2 separate regions of the Homo sapiens genome follow, and region 2 is linked to region 1. The links come from fine-mapping of genetic effects on gene expression. A gene starts in region 1. The other region holds a variant in brackets. All regions are shown on one strand. Distances are between the middles of the regions. Region 1 holds the start of LRRC15 (leucine rich repeat containing 15). Region 2 holds the start of CPN2 (carboxypeptidase N subunit 2).

Region 1 (5,372 bases):
GCATGGAGCCCACGGGCTAGGCTTGGACTCTGGCTCTGTCACTTAGCATATGGCTGCAGGGAAATTAGTTAACAGGCCTGGGCCTCAGTTTTTTTGTCTGTGAAATGGGGGTAATTACTGCCACTCATAGGACTATTTGGCAGATCAGTAGTTCTCAACCATGAATGTGTGTGTGTGTGTGTGTGTGTATGTGTTTGTGTAAACTCCCCCTTCCTGGGGACATTTGGCAATGTCTAGAGACATTTTGTTACTTTTGGATCGGGGGGTACTGCTGGCATCTAGAGGGCAGAGGCCAGGGATGCCATGGTGCCTCCCGCGACACGTAGAACAGCTCCTGCAATGAAGAATTATCTGCCTCCAAATGTCACGTGGTGAGGCCGAGAAAGCTGGTGGAGGTGAAATGATGGAGAGCTGCAGTGAGGTACCCAAGGGGTCTCTGGTTCACAGCAGGTGCTTCCCAAATAGCCATCTTTAAATGCAGCCGATTCATCCCTGTGTTGTCCACCACTCCCAGCACAGTGCCCGACACAGAGCGCTTGGGTGCTAGGATTAGGGAGGATGGAAGAGGAAAAAGAGGGATATTCTTATTCTTGTAGGTTCTATGGAAAGAAAGTTAAAGTGGCCAGGCGCGGTGGCTCACGTCTGTAATCCCAGCACTTTGGGAGGCTGAGGCGGGTGGATCACGAGAATCATGAGACCAGGAGATCAAGACCATCCTGGCTAACACGGTGAAACCCCATCTCTACAAAAAATACAAAAATTAGCTGAGCCTGGTGGTGCGTGCCTGTAATCCCAGCTACTCAGGAGGCTGAGGCAGGAGAATCGCTTGAACCCAGGAGGCGGAGGCTGCGGTGAGCCGAGATCGCGCCATTGCACTCCAGCCTGGGTGACAGAGTGAGACTCCGTCTCAAAAAAAAAAAAAAAAGAGAAAAGTTAAAGTACCTGATTTGGGAACGTGGAGGAATCAGGGCCGTAAGAGGGAAGGTGTTCTGCACGTGGGAACAAGGCTGGTGGGGGAAGGGATGGGGCTTCAAGCTGTGTGGAGCCACTCCAAGCAGTGCCTGCCCCTCCTGGGCTCCTGTTATTTAGTGGACAAGACACTTTTTGTTTCCGGCTCTGAATCACGGTGCCACAGTGAGGAGGAATGTGGCGTGATTCAGGCTGTAGGTCTTGACCATGACAAGCCACCCAAGCAACTATTTCAGTAATAACACTACGCACTTTTATATCTTCCTTTCATCGCAGATCTCAAAACACAGCGCAAATATTAATTAAGCCTCTTGGCACTCCATGAGGCACTGTGTGTAAATATCACTCTCCCCACTTAGCTGAGAGGGTAAACCGAGCCAGGCAAAGGCAGGGTGGCTTCAGCCTGGGGCAGCTCAGGCCTTGTTGAGGCTCCATCTCGGAGGAGAAGCCGGGGTTTGGAAGCCTTCCCGCCCCTCCAACTATGATTCCTGTATCCTCTTCCCCAGGCCTTTTTGGGGATACCACAAATAGAAACAGTTTTGTCCCCACTGGGGACGGGGGTAGAGAGGGCAGCAGTGTGTGGGCTGTAATGCAGAGGTGAGGGGCATAGGGAAGCTCCTCACGCCCAAATATGCCCCTTGATTGCCCGTCCCCAAGCCAGAGATGTGTGTGCCTGCACCTCTCAGAGCAGCAGTAATGGCAAAGACCCCAGCATCACAAGGAAATCGGAAATGCTGTTTTTAGAGGGGACACAGTGGTCGTAATTATATTTTTCCTTGGAATCTAAAGTAAATGCTTCTTCCAAAATGTTAACAACAGATGAAACACATTAATTGTCTGTAAATTTAAAGCCAAATAAAAAGTTTAAAATAAGAAAGAAAGAAAGAAAGAAAGAGAAGAATGAATAAGTTTTCTAGAACCACAGGGAGAAGCACTTGCCAATACTTCTAGGAGCAAAGAAACGCCCCTGAATCCTGCTCCATCCCTTTCTCGGGGTCCTTGTCTCCTTGGCCAGGGCAGGGCAGCAGGGGGTCCACAGTCACTTAGGGAGGGGTTTACCGGGTCGTTGTAAACTCCCCTCTCACGGTGGCCAATGCAGTGAAGGAATCCAAAAGATACACTGGGGGAAAGAAGGAAAGAGGAAAATGTGTCCTGAGTTTTTAAATACGGTTGAAGCAAACCCCTTACATTTAGGGATGCCAGCTATGTGTACCCTGTAGTGTCAGCCCGGGACATGCAGGCACTGCACTGTGGCCCACAGTCCCCCCTCCCAGGGCCAACACTGCCCTCTGCAGTGACTCACGCCCGGGATAGTTTAAATACCGGGACAGCTTAGGCGAGCCACACTCATGCTGCAGCCTTGAGCCGTCCCTCGTCCTCCTCTCAGGCTCCCTCTTGTCCACGGCGGGCGGGCGCCGAGCTGCTGGTAAGTAGGCAAGCCACCCCCATCCCTCCTCTCTGCTTAGAGGGCCCGGCCAGCCCCTTCCCATTTCTGCTGGACCTGCTCCCCTCGGAGACCCCAGAAGGGGCAGAGCTGACATGTGCCTGGGGATGCTCTCGGGACAGGGACAGAAGCAGCCTGTGCTGGAGGGGTGCAAGCCTGTCTCCCTCACTGCCTGGACACCAGGACCACCAGCCCCTCTGCTGATGCCTCAACAGCCTCTTATGCCCCTTGCCCTGAGCGGCTCATGATGTCAACCTGGGGTGCTGAGATGTCTGAGACCAGCAAGTTGGGCTGAAAGTGGACTAAATTATCACCCCCCTTGTCACTGGATTGACCGTTCTGGAATCTAGATCCACTGGGGGAAGAACTTCTCTTTTTAAGGTTCAGATTATTTGCGCCTGTGCCATCTTTCCTGGCACTTGCCCTGGTGGCTCCCAGTGGTCTGCCCCGCATTTGGTTCTGCCCAAGACCTTCCTTCATGGGGGTTTCCCAGGCAAGAGAGCTGTCTGCTTTGCATAGATGGATAACTCCTGCAAGTGTAACTTCAGCAGATGTGCTGGTCCCTGGTTTGCAGTTCCAATTTGGAATTCGGACATGGGCTCAGCATTGTTCAGGCTCTAACAGTGTGGCTTAGGGGACACTATGCTGGCAGTTTCCCCTCTCTCCTGCTGGAAGCGTCGGCCTCTGTGGAGCCTGGAGGCTTTGAGCAGGGAGTCAGGGCAGGAGATGGATTTGTGATGAGGTGGTATGTGGATTTGAAATTGTGACGGCTGCACCTTGACCCGTGTCTCTGCTCAAACGTAGAGGCAGGACCTGGGGCCAAGAAACCAACTGTGGAAAACCAGAGCTTTCAGGACTCTCCCACCCCTGCCAAAGTGCAAGAGCCATTCCACCTCCCGGGCCCAGGGCATCACCTCGGTGCAGCTGCACTCTCTCTGAGATGACACGTGTGCTCCAGTCGCAGGTGCCAGGTGCCTGTCTGCCACGTGCCAGCTTCTCCTTTGGGGTTATCTGGGATGCGTCACTTTACCTTGGGCAGCTCTCAGATGTGTTGCTGCCACTGGCTCCTTAATTTAGAAGTGCTCTAACGGCTGGCACTTCCTTCATTCTGCAGAGACTGAACATCTGGAGTAAATTCAGGGCCAGACAGCCCAATTTGCCTGTGGTCTTGAGTCAGCTGGGCGGGCTCAGCAGTGATGAGGCAGGCATGTGAGAGGGTTCGGGGCCAGGGTAAGTTCTGGATAGATTCGACAGACAGTCAGGTCATGGAAGGTTCTTCCCAGGGCTAGGGAACACTCCCTTAGCTCGCTCAGTAAATGGCGGGGTGGTGAGGCGAGGTAGAATAGATCCAGCCGTGGAGAATAAGGGGTGGGGGAGGAGCTGTCCCGACTCAGTCCTGCCAGTAAGCAGACTGTGATCACACATGGCAATTTGCTGCCCTGAATCCTGACCACGAAGGAGTCACTGCTGCTTCAGATTTATGGCCTGTCTTGGCTTTTGGACACAGAAATTAGAACCTGCTTCCAGATGCTTTGATCAGGGGCTGATCCATTTCTCTCTACTTTGGGATCCCAGGTGCCCGCCTGAGAAGGGGGCTGTTTGTAGCCCGTGGCTGCTGTCATAAGAGCCCTTTTGGGGCAGTTCTCCTGTTCTGCTGGGCGGTTTGTCAGTTTCTCCTGCCACCCTTGCCAGGCTAATGACAGTCCTGCTCTGGCCTCTGCAGGAAGCCAGACCTGGGAGGATCCCCAACAGAAGGGCTGGAAAGGAATTGCGCTTTTTAACTGATTTTCTGTTTTCAAACAATAAGCAACATGTTGGCTTTGAAGGGCCATGAGAGATGAGAGACGCGGGTCCCCGCTTGATCAAGGTGGACGGTGAGGGTGTGGCCAGTCTTGCTTTGGAGTTCAAGGAAGGTTTCTGTTTGGGGTGGAGTATTCCCAAATCAGGGGCCTGTGACCTTGGCCCCAGGTCCTGCCTCTACATTTGAGCAGAGACACAGGTAAAGGTGCAGCTGTCCCAGTTTCAAATCCACACACTGGCCGGGCGCGGTGGCTCACGCCTGTAATCTCAGCACTTTGGGAGGCCGAGGCGGGAGGATCATGAGGTCAGGAGATCAAGACCATCCTGGCTAACACGACGAAACCCTGTCTCTACTAAAAATACAAAAAATTAGCCGGGTGTGGTGGCGGGCACCTGTAGTCCCAGCTACTCGGGAGGCTGAGGCAGGAGAGTGGTGTGAACCCGGGAGGCAGAGCTTGCAGTAGCAGAGATCACACCACTGCACATCAGTCTGGGTGACAGAGCAAGACTCCGTCTCAAAAAAAATAGATAAATAAAAATAAAAAAATAAAGATCCACACACCCCTCATCACAAATCCATCTGCAGCCTTGACTCCATCTCCAGCCTTGTTGTTGAGATTACAGGGGTCAACACCTTCTGGTGAACCCTCTGTCCCTTCCCTACAGTCCTCCAGGAGACTCAGGTGGAATTGAACAAACACCAGCATCAGAGCAGCCTTAAAGAAGAAATCCCTGAACCCATGCAGCCTGGTAGTTGAAATAAGCACTTGCCCTTGGCGAATCATGCTGGGCAGGGGGAAGGTGGATTGTATGAGCCTCAGTTGATTTAAGCTGGAGGGTGCAAATCCACCTCCTCCCCAATCCCAGGCCCTGCCAGGCGTGTGGTTGACAAGGTCCCAAATCCCGGTGATGAGGCTCAGGGATTTGCCAAACTCTGTAGTTAGGGGCCCTGATCGGGTGTCAGGAGTCCCCAACGGACTGTGTGACCTTGGGCAAGTCTCTGCTCCCTGGGGACCCCCTCAGCTTTCCCAACTACAAAATGAGCAGACGGTTTGACTAGGTGCACTCAGAAAGCTCTTGCACCTCTGATGCTCCAGGCTCTAAGTACCGTTTCTGGAAGCAGCTTCTATTGCCAGGTTCAACTCAGCACAAACTGCAG
Region 2 (5,372 bases), 20 kb after region 1:
TCACACATACACCCACTTACACACGCACTCACCACACACACCGCTACACCCATTCACACATATACCCATTTACACACACACACCCCACACCCACACGCATGCACTCACCAAACACTCCCCTACACCCACTTACACACGCACTCACCACACACACCTTTACACCCACTCACACATACACCCACTTACACACACATCACACATGTGCTCTCACCACACACACTCCTACACTCACATACACACGCCCACTCACATATACACCCTCTTTACATACCACACCCCCACACACGCACTCACCACACACACCCCTACACCCACTCACACATACACCCACACACGCACCCACACACGCACTCACCACACACACACCCTACCCACGCGCGCACACACCCACTCACACATACACCCACTTACACACACAACACACCCCCACACATGCACTCACCACACACCCCCTACAGCCACTCACATTTACACCCACTTACATGCACACCCCCAGATGCACGCACTCAGCACACACACACTCCGTGTGTCTTGCAGCCCTGGTTCCACACCTCCGGAGATGGGAAAATCCCTCCCTTCCAAAGCAGCATCTTTCGTCCTCGGCCAGCCCTGAGTGTGTGAGCGCTCCTCTCCATATTGGGCCCCAATTCATCTCCCTATAGCTTTTCCCCCTTCTAATTCAGGAAGGGTTTAGAAAGTTCATTCATTAAACAAGCAAACAAACACAACAAGACAAAACAACAAATCCACAGCCCTCTTGAAATGCCTCCGGGCGCTGAGAGCCCAGCAGGGGCCTGAGGCTGAAGGCAGGCTCCCAGTCCCTCTGCCTCTGCTCACAGGTATGGGTGTGAGCGTGGACCCCATCCCAGGCCTCACCAACCCAGCCGCCTGCGGGAATCTCTAGAGCTTTCTGAGTGTCCTCGGGGTCCTGAAGGTGCCAACCCTGCAACCTCGGTGGGATTTTGGCCCCGGCAGGGCTCTGTACATGGGAGGAGTTCAGGGTCATTTTGTAATCTTCAGAGGCCTTGCCAAGGCCCTCTCCCGTCCTGTGACCCTGGTGACATTCTGGGACGCTGGGGCCACGTGAGGGGAGGAACCACTGCCTGGAACTTTGATCAGCGCTGGGGCTGGATTGAGCTGACCACAGGCCACACCAGACTCCTCTCTGCTCCTGAGGAAGACAGGGCAGCCCGGCGCCACCCGCTCGGCCCTCACGGTAGGCTCCCGGGGTCGCTGAAGGGCTCCAGGGTCTGCAGGGACGTGGGGGCAGGAACGGGAACTTGCGATCTCCCCCGTTTCAGAGCATTCCGCAGCTCCAGGCAGGCTGCGGTTCTGGGGGGCCCCTGCCCCGGGAGGAGAAGTCCCTGAGGTGCTCAGCTAGGGCGCTGCTGGGAAGAGGCAGGAGGAAGGTGGGGCGGGGGTTTGTGAGATGAAGATCTGCCAGTCCTGGCCTACAAGGCTGGTAGTGAGTAGAGGATAAGCAGGGTGACCAGATGTCCAGGTTGGCCTGGTTCTGCCTAGTTTATACTTGTCATCTTGGCATAATAATAATAAATAGTATTACTAATTACTTATTAATCCTATATTAATACTAAATATTATTAATTATTTATTAATATAATTATTGTTTTTTGAGATGGGGGTCTTGTTATGTTGCTCAGGCTGGTCTTGAACTCCTGGCTTCAAGCGATCCTCCCACTCAGCCTGCTGAGTAGCTGGGATTACAAGCGCATGCCACAGCACCCAGCTCAGGCCCAAGGATGACTAGCTCCTGGTTTCCTTCCCAGAAGCGTGCTGGCTCATATAATAAAGTTTGTGGTGAAATAAACCTGCAGGGGGCCACCTTTTATTGAACATTCAGTATGTGCCAGGCGCTGTGTTAAGGGCTTTCTATTTACTATCTTATTTAGCCTATTTATCATCCAATGGAGTGCTAATTTGAACTCTGAGGGCAGAGGTGATAATTAAGTCTGGAAAACCTGAGGCTTAGAGAGTTGGAGTGATTTGCACAAGCCCACACCGCTAGTAGGTGATGGCGTCAGAATCTGATCCCAGCTGGGGGCACTGGCGGAGCTAAAGTGCTTTCCCCTGCTACTAAGCAGGATGAGAGTAAGGCCTGAGATGCGAAGTCACTGAAAGCCACAAACACATTCCTTCAATTCAGCACACAGGGCCTGACTGCCTTCTCAGTGCCTGGCCCCGAGCCAGGTGCTGGGGTGCAGAGCTGCTTGCAGAGACACCACAGCAAGACTGCAGTACCACGGGCTCAGTCGGGTGGGTGCAACTGACTAGAAAACAGAGCGGAAGAGCCCAAACATTCAACACAGTACAAGAGGGATCCGAGGACCCAAGAAAGGGCCGAGCGCGGTGGCTCACGCCTGTAATCCCAGCACTTTGGGAGGCCGAGGCAGGCGGATCACCTGAGGTCAGGAGTTCGAGACCAGCCTGGCCAACACAGTGAAACCCCATCTCTACTAAAAATACAAAAATTAGCCAGATGTGGTGGCAGGCGCCTGTAATCCCAACTACTCGGGAGGCTGAGGCAGGAGAATCGCTTGAACCCGGGAGGCAGAGGTTGCAGTGAGCAGAGATGGCGTCACTGCACTCCAGCCTGGGAAACAAGAGTGAAACTCTGTCTCAAAAAAAAAAAAAAAAAAAAAAAAAAAAAAAAAAAAAAAAGAAGAGGGTAGTCAGGAAGGCTTCATGGGGGAAGTGTGACTTGCACTGGACTGGGAGGGTGGGTATAAATTGGGAGGGTCGCATAGTGCCCAGTTCACAACGGCCTCTTAGTTCAACCTGTCAGCTGTCTTCTCTTCCAGAAGCTAACACAGAGGATAGACAAGCTCCCTCGGGCCTTTGCAACATCACTGCCAGGAAGGAAAGAGTCAAGTAAGCCCCTACTGTGTGTGTGGAACTGTGCTGTGCATTTTACATGTTTATCTCAATATTTAGAATAAAATAGGTTTCAACCTTACTGCAAAAGTGATATGTTTCTTACTTAAAAATGTGGAACATATATTTTTAAGCAGAAGGAAAAAATTAAAATCATCCACAATTCAATTTTTCAGAGGTAATGACTACAAATTTTTTTCTTTTGAGATGGAGTTTCTCTCTTGTTGCCCAGGCTGGAGTGCAATAGTGCGATCTCGGCTCACTGCAACCTCCGCCTCCCGGGTTCTAGCGATTCTCCTGCCTCAGCCTCCCGAGTAGCTGGGATTACAGGCGCACACCACCACGCCCAGCTAATTTTTGTATTTTTGGTAGAGACGGGGTTTCATCATGTTGGCCAGGCTGGTCTTGAACTCTTGATCTCAGGTGATGCTCCC[G/A]CCTCAGCCTCCCAAAGTGCTGGGATTACAGGTGTGAGCCACAGTGCCAGACCCCACCACAAATATTTTGTACATAAGCTTCTATTATGTTTTCTGTGTACAAATACACCTTAAAAATGGAAAAGCAGCATTCTGAGACTTCATATATTTCACTTAAGATATTGCAAACATCTTGTCCATAAATACACATCTATAATAAATTTTCTTTTTGTTTAAAATTTTATCTTTTATTCTATTTTTTTGAGACAAGGTCTCCCCCTTCTCACGCTGGAGTGCAGTAGAGCAATCACCCACTCATTGCAGCCTCGACCTCCCAGTCTCAAGCCGTCCTCCCACCTCAGCCTCTCGAGTAGTTGAGACTACAAGCATGCACCACTATGCTTGGGTAATTTTTATAATTTTTTGAAGAGATGAGATGTTACCATGTTGCCCAGGCTGATTTCAAACTCCTGGCCTCAAGCAATCCTCCTGCCTCTGCCGCCCAAAGTGCTGGGATGACAGGCATGAGCCACTGAACCCAGCCTGTAATATAATTTTAAACATAGCAGAGAGGGTTTCCATTACATCCGAGTAGCATGATTCATGTAACCAATCCCTCATGTTGGACATTTAGGTTGTTTCTATTTTCTTGCTGCGGCCCAATGCCTGTTCTCTCATTTGAGAGTCACAATAGCCCTAACCATGCCGGGACTGAGGTATTATGATGATTATTGTTATCATGGTCGTTCTTGGTTTACAGTCGCAGACTGGGACTCTGAGAGGTGGCTTCACTCCCTGGGACACAACTGGGCAGAGGATGGGGTGGGCTGAACTGGGCAGCGGATGGGGTGGGATGAACTGGGCAGAGGGTGGGGTGGGCTGAACTGGGCAGCGGATGGGGTGGGCTGAACTAGGCAGAGGATGGGGTGGGCTGAACTGGGTGGGGGTGGTGGGCTGAACTGGGCAGCGGGTGGTGTGGGCTGAACTGGGCAGAGGATGGGGTGGGCTGAACTGGGCAGCGGATGGGGTGGGATGAACTGGGCAGTGGGTGGTGTGGGCTGAACTGGGCAGAGGATGGGGTGGGCTGAACTGGGCAGCGGATGGGGTGGGCTGAACTGGGCAGAGGGTGGGGTGGGCTGAACTGGGCAGCGGATGGGGTGGGCTGAACTAGGCAGAGGATGGGGTGGGCTGAACTGGGCGGGGGTGGTGGGCTGAACTGGGCAGCGGGTGGTGTGGGCTGAACTGGGCAGAGGATGGGGTGGGCTGAACTGGGCAGCGGATGGGGTGGGATGAACTGGGCAGTGGGTGGTGTGGGCTGAACTGGGCAGAGGATGGGGTGGGCTGAACTGGGCAGCGGATGGGGTGGGCTGAACTGGGCAGAGGGTGGGGTGGGCTGAACTGGGCAGAGGGTGGGGTGGGCTGGCCAGGGCAGCAGATGGGGTGGGCTGAACTGGGCAGAGGGTGGGGTGGGCTGAACTGGGCAGCGGATGGGGTGGGCTGAACTGGGCAGAGGGTGGGGTGGGCTGGCCAAGGCAGGAGCAGAGGCTAGAACCCAGTGCAAACCTGACCGTCTCAGCCACTGGACTTACGTTGCTGGATTGAGAAGAGAGGGGACCAGGCTTGGGGAGCAGCCAGGGACTCTGGATAAGTCTCAGAAGCCCCTCTTTGTGCTTCCAGCTGAGCTGGAGCCCAAATGGCCAAATCCAGGCCCGTTGGTGAGGCAGACATCCATGGAGCCAGCGTCGGGTGGCAGTCCCTGGGTGTCTGGGGCCAGGGTTCTAGGCCCCATTCTAGGTCCCATCACCCTCTGGAAGAAGTGAGGCTTAGCTCTGTGGTGGATGACAGACTGGCTTGAGGCATGCACAGAAACGTACCCTCCCATAAGCAATGTGAGGAGAGGAAGGAGCTCATTTGCACCCAGCCAAACCTTCCCTATCCCTCAAAAAAAAAAAACCCCATTTAAAAAGCCAGACTTCCTTGGCTTGCCGAAAGTGTGGAACATATTTGTGGGCATTTGATGGTCTTATTCCCAGATGAGGAGCAGAAAACCTCTGGCTGCCACCCCAC

What was found. PIP is the estimated chance that this variant, and not a neighbour inherited with it, causes the effect.
Region 2: its variant is the best candidate, but not a certain one, in a credible set for the expression of LRRC15 in tibial artery (GTEx, PIP 0.88).

What each region holds. Positions count from the first base shown.
Region 1 is chr3:194,366,684-194,372,055 of GRCh38, reverse strand. LRRC15 (leucine rich repeat containing 15) reads left to right here and starts at 2,313. Exons shown (of 2, transcript NM_130830.5): 1 at 2,313-2,395. RefSeq lists an enhancer at 1,890-2,854.
Region 2 is chr3:194,347,086-194,352,457 of GRCh38, reverse strand. CPN2 (carboxypeptidase N subunit 2) reads left to right here and starts at 1,130. Exons shown (of 2, transcript NM_001080513.4): 1 at 1,130-1,216. RefSeq lists an enhancer at 805-1,654. The variant G/A (reference allele first, on the strand shown) is at 3,327.